Regions from separate parts of the Homo sapiens genome. Here region 2 is linked to region 1. The links come from fine-mapping of genetic effects on gene expression. Tissue or cell type: whole blood. Region 1 holds a variant in brackets; the other region holds the start of a gene. All regions are shown on one strand. Distances are from middle to middle.

Region 1 (2,750 bases):
CACTCAGGGCCACAGTGGAAGGTCTGGATGCCTGGTGTTCTGTTTTCCTAAGGCTGCTGAACCCTAACTAACATCCACACAGAGGCCACTGGTGGTCAGCACAGGTGGCAGGGTTAGAAAGGTTGGGACTGGCTTTGTCCTTTGAGTCAGAGGGACAGTCACACTCATGTTTGTGTGACCATATGCATGTGGCTATGGTCAGTCCTATAGATTATGGCAGCGGTTATCACTCTCTGTCACTGTGGACCTTGGGGCCAGATCGTTCTCTGAGGTGGGGCCATCCTGGGCACTGTAGGGTGCTGAGCAGCGTCCCTGGCCTCCACCCACTCTATGCCAGGGACACCCCGAGTTGTGACAACCAAAGATGTCCCCAGACATTGCCCAGTGCCCCATGGGGGGCAGAATCACCCCCAGGTGAGACCCCCGGGGGTTAGGGGATTCCACAGATCCCCAAGAAACTCTGTGTCTCATGATCCTCTGTCCTCCTGAGGTTCCAGGAGGCTGCACACATTGTAATCCACACCCTGAGTGGGGAGGGAGAGAGGAGGAGAATCGCAGGAGCTGGGGCCCCCCTTGGTTTCTGCCATCCACCCCATCGGGAATTTTTTCTAGTGTCTGGTGTCAACAGGGAGCAGATACAATATTTTTCCAAATAATTAAGGCAGAGTCTCTCCCCCTTGGCATTCAGGGCTGGGTCGTTCTCTGGGGTGGGGTTGTCCTGGCCACTGCAAGGTTCTGATCAGCATCCCTGGCCTCCACCCACTCCACGCCAGGAGCATCCCTGAGTCATAACAGTCACAAATGCCCCCAGACACCACCTAGCATCCCCTGGGGACCAGAAGGACCCCTGGTTGAGAACCACGGTTGTATAGAAAGGAATTGAAGCAAAAAAAAAAAAATGGAATTCTCTGCTCCCCTGTGGCATCCTGTTGATGGATTAGATTCAGCCTCCATGCTCCAACACCGAGCTCAGCGTCTCCTGGAAGGCCCTGTCTCCAGAGGACGTTCCCAGATCCTGCTCCCTGGAAGAATTCTTGCGAGCATATATGCAAGTGTAATTAAGCGGCCGTTTTTCCTCTGTGGTGACACAGATTTGGGTCTGCAGTAAAGATATGGAGTCCCTTTAGAGCTGAGAGCCGGATCACGGCCAGGAGAATGCCTTGCTTTGAGATTCTCTGGGAATCGGGAGTCCTGCCTGGGTGGAAATCAGCCCTGGACAGGGAGGGAATGTGCAGATCGGAGCAAGTGGCTTGTTTCTTCCTGGCAACCCCAGAAGCTGTCTGAACAGCTTCTCTCTGCCACACATCTCTTTGAGTCTTGCACCCGCCCGGCTGAAAATTACACCCAACTCCTCCAGCCGGGTCTAGGAAG[T/C]GGTGCAAGCTCCTGAACCTCCATCTGCAGAATAACTAACTAGCTGTTCCTGAAAACCACCAAAGAGGCTGGGCGCGATGCCTCACACCTGTAATCCCAGGACTATGGGAGGCCGAGGCGGGAGGATCACTTGAATCTGGGAGTTTGACACCAGCTTGGGCAACATGGTGAAACCCCATCTCTACAGAAAGCGAAAACAAAAATTAGGCAAGCATGATGGTGCGCGCCTGTGGTCCCAGTTCCTTGGGAGGCTGAGGTGGGAGGATCGCTTGAGCCAGGCGGTGGAGGTTGCAGTGAGCTGAGACTGTGCCACTGCACTCTAGCCTGGGCGGCAGAGATATATCGCTGAGGGTTTGACGGACACTTCTAGATGGAAATCAATGTCTATCTGGTGCCTTGGGGGCTGTGCATGTTCACGAGGAGGGTGTCTGAACATGCCAGGATGTGGGTGCCTAGGGGAGGGTCTCTGTGGGGTGAAGTTTGGATATTTGAGGGCGCCCATGGAAAATGACTTCAACCTGCATGGCTCAAAACCACAGAAATGGATTTTCTGGCAGTTCTAGAAGCCAGAAGTCTGAGACGAAGGTGTGGGCAGGGCCGTTCCCGGCCCAGAAGCTCCCGGGGAGGATCCTTCCTGCCTCTTCCAGCATCTGGCAAGTGGCCGGCGGTTCTTGGCGCCCCTGGGCTGGTGACATCGCTCCAGTCTCTGCCTCCATCCTCACACGGCCCCCTTCCCTGTGTGGGTCTGTGTCCAAATTTCCCTCGTCTTATAAGGACATCAGTTATTGGATTTAGGGCTCATCTTAATCCAGCACAACCACATCTTAATAATAAGTCCATCTGCAGAAACCCTGTTTCCAAATAAGGTCCCATTCTGAGGCATCTGGCTCAACAATATTTTCTTCCAAATAATTAACTTTGAGTCTCTTCCCCCTGGTGCTGTGGACATTGGGGCTGGATCATTCTCTGGGGAGGGGCCATCCTGGGCACTGCAGGGTGCTGAGCAGTGTCCCTGGCCTCCACCCACTCCATACCAGGAGCTCCCCCCAATCGTGAAAACCACAGATGTCCTCAGACCTCCCCCGCCCCATTGAGACCCCCAAGTGTCGGGAATATCTTTTCTGTTTTCATATGTTTTTCTTTGTATCTTATAGGATCCTGGGGAAATATTTCCCCCAGCAGTCCCTCATAGGAGCCAATTTAGGTCATCGCTGTCCTTCAGAACTGTCCTCTGCAGAGGGGCCGCGACATCTGATATTCTCTACTCTTTAACCAGCCTGGTTTGCTAAATAACGCTCCCTGCTTCTTTACCGTCAAGCGACCTCTCCTGCTCGGCACTGCTGGCATTTCCTGGTCTTCGTGGTTGCAGATTTTTGGTG
Region 2 (2,750 bases), 26 kb before region 1:
CAATATTCCCAAGGGAGCTTGTGGAAAATGAAGATTCCAGGCCTGTAATCCAAGCATTTTGGGAGGCAGAGGCAGGAGAATCACTTGAGCCCAGGAGTTCAAGACCAGTTTGGGCAACATAGCAAGACCCCATCTCTAACAAAAAAAAATTAGCCAGGGCCAGGCACGGTGGCTCACGCCTGTAATCCCAGCACTATGGGAGGCCAAGAAAGGTGGATCACCTGAGGTCAGGAGTTGGAGACCAGCCTGGCCAAAACGGTGAAACCCTGTCTCTACTAATAATACAAAAATTAGCTGGATGTGGTGGTGCGTGCCTGTGGCCCCAGCTACCCGGAAGGCTGAGGTGGAAGGACTGCTTGAGCCTGGGACTTCAAAGCTGCAGTGAGCTATGACTGCACCACTGCAGTCCAGCCACGGCAATTGAGTGATACCCTGTCTCAAAAACAAAACGAAAACTAAACAAAACACAGATTTCAGGGTCCAGTTCCCTATAGGATTCTGGTTCATTCCATCTGTGTTGGGGCTCAGGAATTTGTGGATCCAGGGCCATGAGTTAGGAAACTGAGAAATCTTGGAAATGATGAGACAGGCTTGGGCAAATGACCTTAGGTTTCACCTTTCTGAGACCCAGTTTCCACCTCTGTAAAATGTGGATAGTAATCTCGCCTTCTGGCCTTATGCGGAGGGTCCCACGAGAGGGAGCCTATAAAGTCTTCAAGAAAGCGGTGCAGCAGTTATGATCACTGACATTCTTCCCCAGCAAATGAGCCCCCGGAGCTGGCATGCAGGATTCGAACCAGCTCACCTAGCGCGGGATTCGAACTCGCGAAACTACTCGCGCCTTCCTGACGTCACGAAGTCACCCTGGAAAGCCGCTCTTCGCCCCGCCCCCGGCCCCGCCCGCGCCCGGAGCCCCGCCCCACTCTCCTGGGCGCAGCCTACCCCGCTGCCTGCCCCGCGCCCCGCCCCCGCTCCGGCCTCCCGCAGCCGGGGCTCGCGATTGGCCTTGCCGGGACGCCAGGGCCCGCCCCCCGAGTGTCGGCCCCGCCCCCGCAGAGGGGAGCGAGCGCTCGCGGGCCGGGGCGGAGGGTTCGGCTGCGCGGCGGGGCTGAGGCGGCCGCGGGGCCCGAGCGCAGGTAAGGGCGCCCGCGAACCGGGCCAGGGGAAGTGAGGGCGCGGCCGGCGTCCCGGAGAGGGGACTGGGACAGCTCGGATTCGGCTGCGGACCGAGTTGGGGGTCGGAGTCGGCTGAGGAGGGGGGCTGGGTCTGGGGACCCGGGCTGCAACTGGAGGCTGGGGTTGGAATTGGGGACGGGGCTGCGCTTAGGGGGTCGAAGTTAGCTGGGGAGGGGCTGGGGTTGGGGATTGGGACTGCACTTGGGGCTCAGGGCTAGCTGGGGAGGGGGCGGGAGTTGCAGGTCGAGGTTAGCTGGGGACGGGGCAGGGGGTGCAGATCGAGGTTAGCTGGGGAAGGATTGGGTCTGGGCATTGGGACTCCACTTAGAAATCAGGGCCAGCTGGGGAGGAGGCTGGAGTTGCAGGTCCAGGTTAGCTGGGGAGGGGGCTGGAGGTGGGATTGGAGGTCTGAGTTAGCTGAGGAGGGGGCTGGGGGTGAGACTGGAGGTCTGAGTTATCTGGGGAGGGGACTGGAGTTGCAGGTCGAGGTTAGCTGGGGAGGGAGCTTGGAGCGGGATTGGAGGTCTGAGTTGGCTGGGGAGGGGTCTGGAATTGCAGGTCCAGGTTAGCTAGGAAGGGGCTGGTGGTGGAATTGGAGGTCTTGAGTTTGCTGGGGAGGGGGCTAGAGTCGCAGGTCGAGGTTAGCTGCCGAGGGGGCTTGGAGTGGGATTGGAGGTCCAAGCTAGCTGGGGAGGGGGCTGGAATTGTAGGTCGAGGTTAGCTGGGGAGGGGGCTGGAAGTGGAATTGGAAATCTGAGTTAGCTGGGGAGGACGCTGGGGATGGTGTTGGGGGTTGAGGTTAATTGGAGCGGGGAACAGGGGTTGAGTCAAGGGTGCAGCTTCTTTGAAGAGGGAGCTGGGAGTGGGGTTGAGGTTTGCAGGGAGCTGGAGAGGGGGCTGGGGATGGAGTTTGAAGTGGGGTTCATTGGAGAGGGGGCTGCAGAGGGAATTAGATGTTGAGGTTGTCTGGGGAGAGGACTGAGGAATGGGGTTGGTGAAGATGGGGGGGTGTGATTGACGGCCCAGGGGTTAGGGTTAGCTGAAAAGGGGCAGAAGGACAAAGCTGGGGTGAGCCAGGGAGTGGCTGGAGCATACAGGTGGGGGTCAGGCTTGTTCCAGAAAGGGTCTGGGGGCTATCAGGGGAAATGGGGAGCTTGTGAGTGTGTGGGGTGGAAGGGGGTTCAGGGAGAAGGAAGTTGGGGTGAGTTAGTGAGAAGGGAGGTGGGGGTAAGGTCCCAGGCTGGAGACACCTGGGGGCAGGTGTTTTGCTAGACATTGACTAATCAGGAGGAAAACGGGGTGTGGGGAGGTGTCTCAGGTAGGATCCAGTTAAAAGGAATTTGGAGAGGACTCACCCCTCTACTTTTGGGGGAGATGTTAATTGTTTGCTCTAGAACTGGGCACGGGGCAGAACCCCCTGGGGAACAGTGAGTTGAAGGAGACGGGAGTTCGGAATACTTTTTGAGGTTTATTTCTAGGATATAGGGTGCCAAGGAGAACGCTTCAGGAAGGAGAAAGGCTCCTGTCGGTGACTGAATTTTTCAGGAACTAAAGTGGGAGTTTTTGGGACGGTG

The links. PIP is the estimated chance that this variant, and not a neighbour inherited with it, causes the effect.
Region 2: GNG7 starts here. The variant in region 1 is fine-mapped to the expression of GNG7 in whole blood (TOPMed, PIP 0.96).

What each region holds. Positions count from the first base shown.
Region 1 is chr19:2,675,403-2,678,152 of GRCh38, reverse strand. All of the region lies in intron 1 of GNG7 (G protein subunit gamma 7), which reads left to right. Among named protein-coding and RNA genes, the nearest start is that of GNG7, 26 kb to the left of the region's middle. RefSeq lists a silencer at 1-71. The variant T/C (reference allele first, on the strand shown) is at 1,372.
Region 2 is chr19:2,701,032-2,703,781 of GRCh38, reverse strand. GNG7 (G protein subunit gamma 7) reads left to right here and starts at 1,088. Exons shown (of 5, transcript NM_052847.3): 1 at 1,088-1,136. RefSeq lists a silencer at 803-1,192.